Homo sapiens: one gene and its partner. The protein of the gene in region 1 purifies or fractionates together with the protein of each later gene. This does not show direct contact. Each region holds a gene or a part of one and is shown in the gene's direction. Other genes may lie near its edges.

Region 1 (3,806 bases):
ACCCGTAATCCTAGCACTTTGGGAGGCCGAGGTGGGCAGATCACCTGAGGTCAGGAGTTTGAGACCAGCCTGGCCCACATGGTGAAACCCCGTCTCTACTGAAAATACAAAAAATTTGCTGTGCGTGGTGGTGCACACCTGTAATTCCAGCTACTCGGGAGGCTGAGGCAGGAGAATTGCTTGAACCCGGGTGGCAGAGGTTGCAGTGAGCCGAGATTGTGCCACTGCACTCTAACCCGGGTGACAGTGCAAGACTCCATCTCAAAAAAAAAAAAAAAAAATTCACAAAGCCTAAAAAGTTTACTATCTGCCTCTTTAAAGAAAAAGTCTGCTCACTGCTGTCTCAGAGGATCAGGCCTTCCCTGCGAGTGTTCTGTAGTTAGGGATGACTGCCGGCCAGGGGGTCAGCCAGGTCAGTGTAGTGATGTCTGCAGAGACATTTACACCCAGAGACACAGATGGAAAACAAATGGCTAGACTGGTCAAATGGGAGGGGTCTTTGTTTTATGGAATAAAACAAAGTTCCTTTTCAGTTCCTTCAGCGTATGAGCAAAACCCATGTGATGTTTTCTCTCCCTTCATTCTGGGACTGCAAGCATTGAGGCCAGACAGGGTTCATTCCGAGCAGCGAAGGGAGTGTCGACAGACGGGAGCGTACAGTGGAAAGAATCCCATCCTTGCCTTCCCCTTCCCTTCCTCCCTGGTCTTCCTCTTCTGCTTCTCCAGCCCCCGTCCTGTGCCTGGCTTTATGCTAGGTCCAGGAGATCCACCGGGGAGCTGAAGCCACTGGCACTGGTCCTTAGCTCTGGAGTTGACGGATCTTGTGTCACACCTTTTGCAGATGAAAATGCTGACTCTCCAGAACCCATTTATCCAGGGCTGCCAGGTGGCAGGTTCGAGATGAGGGACCCCTCTCTGCCAGCCCTGAGAACTACTTCCTCACTCATGTGTTTCTACCTTGTGGCTTTGGGGTGTGCTGGCCCAGAGGTTCATGGATGGGGCTTGAGCCCGTGGTCAGCCACATTGGTTCCCAGAAGCAGGGACGGCAGAGGCATGGACAGCGCTGACCCAGAGTGCTCGGACCCGTCCTGGCAAAGCCATCTGGGCCTGAGGTTAAGGTTCAGCCCTGCCCTTTCATGTGATGGGACCAAGGCAGGGAAGGGGCTGAGCAGACTCGGGGCGGGGCCAGTGGCCAGTGCCCAGCATCACTCCAGACCCTGGCCATCGGTGGCAGGCTCACGTGGACAGAGTGCTCTGGAAAAGCCCTGGTTTTAGGATCAGAAACGTTGAATTTAGCACTTTCCTCAGGGCCTCTCATTCTTCCTTTTCCCATAAAAAAGAGACAGCTAAGTGACAGTGGAGGAAACCACCTCACACACTCTGAGCTTGAACTCAGAAGGTTCTCTGATAAAAGGGGATGAGAAAGGGGCAGGTGCCCTCCGGTAGCAGTAAATCTACTTTTTCCCTGTCTTTGTAGGGCTGACAAGTCCACCCCACTGACCAACAAAGGCCAACCGAGAGGACCTGGTAATTATTTAATTTGGGACTGAGTTTGTTTCTGCTTGGTCCATGGGGGCAATGTGGGGGATGTTTCCTGCCAGGTGGTCAGGACTGAGGGAGGGCCCAGCTGTCTGCCATTCCACAGCCCTCCTGCCCCCTCCCCTCCTGCCCCCTCCCCTCCTGCCCCCTCCCCTCCTGCCCCCTTCCCCTCCTGCCCTCTTCCTCTCCTTCCTTCCCTCCTTCCTTCCTTCCTCCCCCACTCCTGCCTTCCTCTGCTCCCTTCTCCTCCTCTCCCCCTCCCTCCCCCATCTCATGCCTTCCTCCCCCGCCACCTGCCTTCCTCCACCCCTCCCTTCCCCTCCCCTCCTCTCACCCTCCTCCCTGCCTTCCTCCTCCCTCCTCCCTCCTGCCATCCTCCCTCCTCCCTCGGCCTCTGAGACCCCTGCTCCTGAGCAGCTCAGTCCTGGGGCCCCTCACCTGTCCCCTCCTGCTGACATGGCAGGCTCACTGGGGGACACTCGCTGCCACACAAGCTCTCCAAGGTCTGCATCCAAGTCAGAAGGTTCCCTTTCCCCTCAACAGATCGGAACACCTGGGGAAACCTGCTTTCAGACACACCCTGTGGCTTGTACATTGTTTACATCTCATGGCTGTGATTGATGGGATGTCTTAAGCTGCTTCATTTTTGCCCTACAGTGGATCTCTCTGCAACGGAAGCTCTGGGTCCTCTGTCCAATGCTATGGTCCTGCAGCCCCCTGCACCCATGCCTAGGAAGTCGCAGGCAGTAAGTGACGAGCCCCCTTTCCTGCCTCTCTGCTCTAGCCAGGGGGGTGCAGGTGGTTTCACAAGGGCTCAGGGGAAGCAAGTCTTCCCCTCTTCCCCTGGCTGGGGCAGGGCGGGGCTCTTCTTGGTACCTGACTGCTTGGATCTGGGCAGCTGGTGGGTTTGGCCCTCCTGCCGCAGCTCCACAATGGGCCCACTCAGAGTACCCTGCCCCGGCCGCTTCGTTTCCCAGCCCTTGGCCCCTTCTCTCTGCTTGGTGGGGAGCTCTTCCCTTTTCTCTCCCTGGCTCCTGAGCTGCACTGACCTGCCCCACCTTGGCATCTGCAGGCTTCTCAGGCCTAGGTACGGGACTCCTGAGACCGGGGAAGGCAGGGTGCTTGAGCTCTCTGCCCTGAGAGCTGAGGCCTGCAGCCACACTAACCGTTGTTCCCTCTCCTGACCCAGACCAAGTTGAAGCCTAAGCGGGTGAAAGCGCTCTATAACTGTGTGGCTGACAACCCCGATGAGCTCACCTTCTCCGAGGGGGATGTGATCATCGTGGACGGGGAGGAGGACCAGGAGTGGTGGGTGAGTCAAGGGTGGGCCTGGGAGGTTCCTGGGGGCTGAGCCACGTCCCTGCCCACCTGGCTGGAGAGACGGGCTTGCAGGTGAGGTTTTCTCAGCCTGAGCAGTCCAGATGTAGTTCCTGGTGCCTCCGCCCCTTAGCATCCTCAGGAGCTGCTTCCTCCATGGACACCCCCTTCTGAGCAGGCCTGATTATTCCCCAGGGTGGCTTCCTCCCCTGTTAGGGTGCAGTTTCCACAGCACTCATGAGGGCCTGAAATGACACTCCTTCATTTTGAGGTCTTGAGTTTCTAGGTCATCACCCCCCATTGCTGGATTAGTGGAATCGGGTGTCTGGAGAGAGCTGACCTAGAGCGCAGAGCCCCAGGCCTGAGTCTGGTCCTGAAACAAGCTGTGGCCGCCCAGGCGTCCAGCAGGGTGTGGGAGCAAGATGAGTGCCGGCCACCTAAGAATTCAGACTTGGCCACTCAGGGGCTGGTGGCTTGGGGCAGGTTGCTTTTATCTTTAAGCATTAGTGGGATCATCTGTGACAGGGAGGTCACACACACACAGTCTGGTGCAGGTGATCTTGTGAGCACCCACTAAGCGGCAGCTGCAGACAGTGAGGGCGGTGGATGAACCGGCTTGAATGGGGCGTGGACAGAAAGCCCCAGGCTGAGCCCACCACACAGTAGACGCAAGTGGCACAGCTCCGCAACTGAGCTCAGAGCAGACAGTTCAGCTGGGAACTCACAGGATTTAGGGGAACTTCTTTGTCGAGTGCGAGGAGTTTGGACACTGTCTTTAGTCACTGTCCCTCCCAGAACTCCCACTAGTGTTTAAACTGCATGTCTTCAGCCTCCAGAGGCGCTGTGAGCTCTCAGGGCCAGGCAGCACTGCCTTCATTTGGCAGAGCTGGGTTCACCGGTCTTTCCTGTGGCCTCGTTTGCCCTTAATGGATTGAAAGTGTCTGTGGCCT
Region 2 (3,806 bases), on another chromosome or scaffold:
CAACTCCTGGGCTCAAGTAATCCTCCCACTTCACCCTCCTGAGGTGTTGAGATTGCAGCAGCATGAGCCACCATGCCTGGCATGGGGTTTCTTTATGGTAGGTAGTGGCAGCTGGGGGAGGCCTTGAAGGGATTGAGAGACATGACCAGATATGCTTTTTTTTTTTTTTTTTTTTGGGAGATGGAGTCTCTCTGTCGCCCAGGCTGGAGTGCAGTGGTGCGATCTCGGCTCACTGCAAGCTCCGCCTCCCGGGTTCAGGCCATTCTTCTGCCTCAGCCTTCCGAATAGCTGGGACTACCGTAGAGGTAGCGTTTCACCATGTCAGCCAGGATGGTCTCAATCTCCTGACCTCGTGATCTGCCTGCCTTGGCCTCTCAAAGGGCTGGGATTACAGGCGTGAGCCACTGCGCCCAGCCTCCAGATATGCTTTTAAAAGATTATTTTACTTTGGGAAGCCAAGGTGGGTGGATCACAAGGTCAGGAGATCGAGACCATCCTGGCTAACACAGTGAAACCCCGTCTCTACTAAAAATACAAAAATTAGCCAGGTGTGGTGGCAGGCGCCTGTAGTCCCAGCTACTTGGGAGGCTGAGGCAGGAGAATGGCGTGAACCCGGGAGGCGGAGTGCAGTGAGCCAAGACTATGCCACTGCACTCCAGCCTGGGCGACAGAGTGAGACTCCGTCTCAAAAAAAAAAAAAAAAGATTATTTTAGCTTCTTCATGGAGAGTGAATGATAGGATGTTGAGAGTAAGAGCAGTGTTCAGATCAGAAATCCTGGGCCGGGTGTGGTGGCTCACACCTGTAATCCCAGCACTTTGGGAGGCCAAGGCGGGCGGATCACCTGAGGTCGAGATTTCGAGACCAGCCTGACCAACATGGAGAAAACCTGTCTCTACTAAAAATACAAAATTAGTCGGGGGTGGTGGTTCATGCCTGTAATCCCAAATACTCAGGCTGAGGCAGGAGAATTGCTTGAACCCAGGAGACCGAGGTTGTGGTGAGCCGAGATTGTGCCATTGCCCTCCAGCCTGGGCAAGAAGAGGGAAACTCTGTCTCAAAAGAAAAAAAATCGTGGCTTGCCCTAGGATGGTGACAATGGCAGTGGAGAAGAGTGGACAAATTTAAGCTGTATTTGGGGGTTGCTGAAGGAACGACGAATCAAGGATATGCTTAGGATTGCAGGGAGGGTCCGGTTGGGTAAAGGATGAATCTCGAGTTCTGTCTTGGACATGTTAAGTTTACAGTGCCAGGCATCTGAGTGGAGGTGTAAGTGTGCAGCTGGACTGGAAGTGTGTGGAGGGAGCTCTGTGGAGTGGAAGCTGTCTCCCTGCCCCCTTAAGGAGAATTGATGGAATTGACAGGGCCTGAAACTTTGACCAAACCTGCTGCATTGAGAACACACCCCCTTCTTCTGGAACTTCTGCAGGGGAGGTGGAAGGTGCAGATTCCAGGTTTTTGGGCCAGCGTCCCAAACCTGTAGAGTGTGTGATCCAGTAGCTTATTCTTGGGTTACAAGTCCAGTCCATCAGCTAAGGTGGGTGGGAATTGGAATTAGTCATGACAGCACACACTTGGCCCACCCTGCCCTGGGGATTCCAGCCCAGCGCTTTTTGCAAGAAGAATCAGGCATGGGATTCCATGGAAAACTGCTTTTGGAAGCCGAGCTTGAAGTAGGGGAGTAGTGCTGTGTGAGTGCTTGCAAGTCGGGGTAGGGCGCACCTCTCATCTACCACCTACTTCCTGGTTGACTTGGGCAAGTTATTCGACCCCGAGCAGCCGTTCTGTGGGCTCTTCCCAGGCTGATGAAGATGCTCCAGAGAGCTATACCCACTGTGAGACTTGGGCTGAGCACTACGTGGGCTGGGGTGGAGCAGGAGTTTGTCCTCATCCAGATGGGCTGTTGAGAGATGGCAGGAGTGGCCCTCAGGGGCTCCACAGGACCTGAACTCCAACAACCAGCTTCTTGCCCTGTTCTAGCAAAAGCGCAAAGGCGTTGAAGGGCTCATCGACATCGAGAACCCCAACCGGGTGGCACAGACAACCAAAAAGGTCACACAACTGGATCTGGACGGGCCAAAGGAGCTTTCGAGGAGAGAACGGTAACATCACTGGCTGGGCCTTGTGTCACGGGGAATACAGGCCAGCAGTTGGCCTGTGGGATGCTAAGGTCCCCAGCTGGCTGGGAGCTGTGGCTGTTTATTTCTGTCTCATTCCCCAATGGCCCTCCAGTAGCCTTTAAAAAGCCACACAGAATTTGTTTTCACCAATTGATACATGATATCAGGGGAAATAGGACAACAGGCTCAGACCTGAGCATAACACTTGAGGTAATGGTGCAGGATACAGAGGGTTGCCCTCCATTCCCCTCTTCCAGAGCACCACACCCTGGGGAGACTTCCCTTACCCCACTGATCTGACCATTCCTGACCTGCATCCATCTGTAATGTCGTGGCCATGGGGACTGGAAGGGGGCTGCGAGCCTGTGCCGGCCAGAAGGCAGTCCAGCCCAGCGCAGCTCAGCCAGCTGTCCCAGGCCTCTGCAAGTCCTGTGTGAAAATGAAGCTGTAAATATCTTCCTCAAGAGTCGTATGAGGATCAAGATCATGTACTGAAGTGCCTGGCACAGGATCAGTCCTTGACTGGTGCCCTGACTTTTGGCAGCCACCAGGTGACCTCAAGGGCCTTACAAGAGGTTGAAGCCTGCTAGTTTCTCTCCTGACTGGGAATTTAGGATAATGGCTGAGGGGTGTGTCTGTGAAAGCCTCGTGGGGAAGGCCATGAGCTTGGGTGTGATTGCAGCTGCTAAGGACCCTTCTGTCCCCCTTCAGTAGCTTCCTCTTGGCATTGACTTCAAAAACCCAGCAACCTGGGTGTTCTGCCACTGTGGTATTCTGCCATTGGCAGCTGTGCAGCCTTCGATAAGGCTGTGCCTTTCTGGGCATCAGTGTCCTCTCCAGTAAAAGGGATCCTGTTGCTCCCTCCTTCTGTCCTTTGGGGTTGCAGAGACACCCTGCCTGGCATTTTGCTTTCACTGAAGGGCCCTGCAGAGTCTTTGGGCTGCCTTAGTCATCATTCCTGAGGCTCAGCTTAGAGGCTTCTGAGTGTGGCACATCCCTCCTGAGCTAGGATCTGCGGTTCGCCAGGTATTATCTCCTCAGCTCTGTAGTGAGGCATCTGCTCTTCCCACTCGGGAGTCCCTCTCCCTCCCCTCTAGCTAGCTCCCATGCCTGGTTTCTCATTACTCCCCAGTTCTGTGTACCTTGAAGGCCTCTGGGAGGCCGAGTCTCTCTCCCAGCCTCCTGCCAGGCAGGGCCCTCCCCTCCTCCAGCACTTGGCTCTTCCAGGAACCCAGTGCAAATAGGCCCTCCGATCTCATCCTGAAGGGCATCCACTCCAGTTCAGAATCTCAAGCTTGGGAAGATCCTCAAAAGGAAGCTAATGACCCTCACCACTGACTCTACTTAGGGGGTTCATTCCTGACACTTTGTCCCATGGGAGCCCAGCAATTATTCCCATCTCCCTACTGATGGGGGCTGTCCCCTTGGGGGGCAGCACCGTGCACATCTGAGCTGCTCTAAGAATGGGCCATGTGGTGTTGACCTGAGACTGGGTGTGTCTGTTTCCCACTGTGGTCCTCATCCTATGCCCTGTGGCTGCTTCCTCCACTTCTTCATTCCTTTTTTTGTTTGTATTTTTTAGAGATAGGATTTCACTCTGTCACCCAGGCTGGAGTGCAGTGGTGCAATTGTAGCTCACTGCAGCCTTGAACTTCTGGGCTCAAGCAATCCGCCTGCCTCAGCCTCC

The links.
Region 2: the proteins of ASAP2 (region 1) and PDAP1 fractionate together in Homo sapiens (co-fractionation; one large-scale study listed by BioGRID). This does not show direct contact.

Annotation. Positions count from the first base shown.
Region 1 is NC_000002.12:9,398,546-9,402,351, forward strand, and holds part of ASAP2 (arf-GAP with SH3 domain, ANK repeat and PH domain-containing protein 2), read left to right. Parts: intron 1-1,477; coding exon 1,478-1,527; intron 1,528-2,196; coding exon 2,197-2,285; intron 2,286-2,728; coding exon 2,729-2,851; intron 2,852-3,806. UniProt on the Homo sapiens protein: Activates the small GTPases ARF1, ARF5 and ARF6. Regulates the formation of post-Golgi vesicles and modulates constitutive secretion. Modulates phagocytosis mediated by Fc gamma receptor and ARF6. Modulates PXN recruitment to focal contacts and cell migration.
Region 2 is NC_000007.14:99,398,598-99,402,403, reverse strand, and holds part of PDAP1 (28 kDa heat- and acid-stable phosphoprotein), read left to right. Parts: intron 1-1,979; coding exon 1,980-2,101; intron 2,102-3,806. UniProt on the Homo sapiens protein: Enhances PDGFA-stimulated cell growth in fibroblasts, but inhibits the mitogenic effect of PDGFB.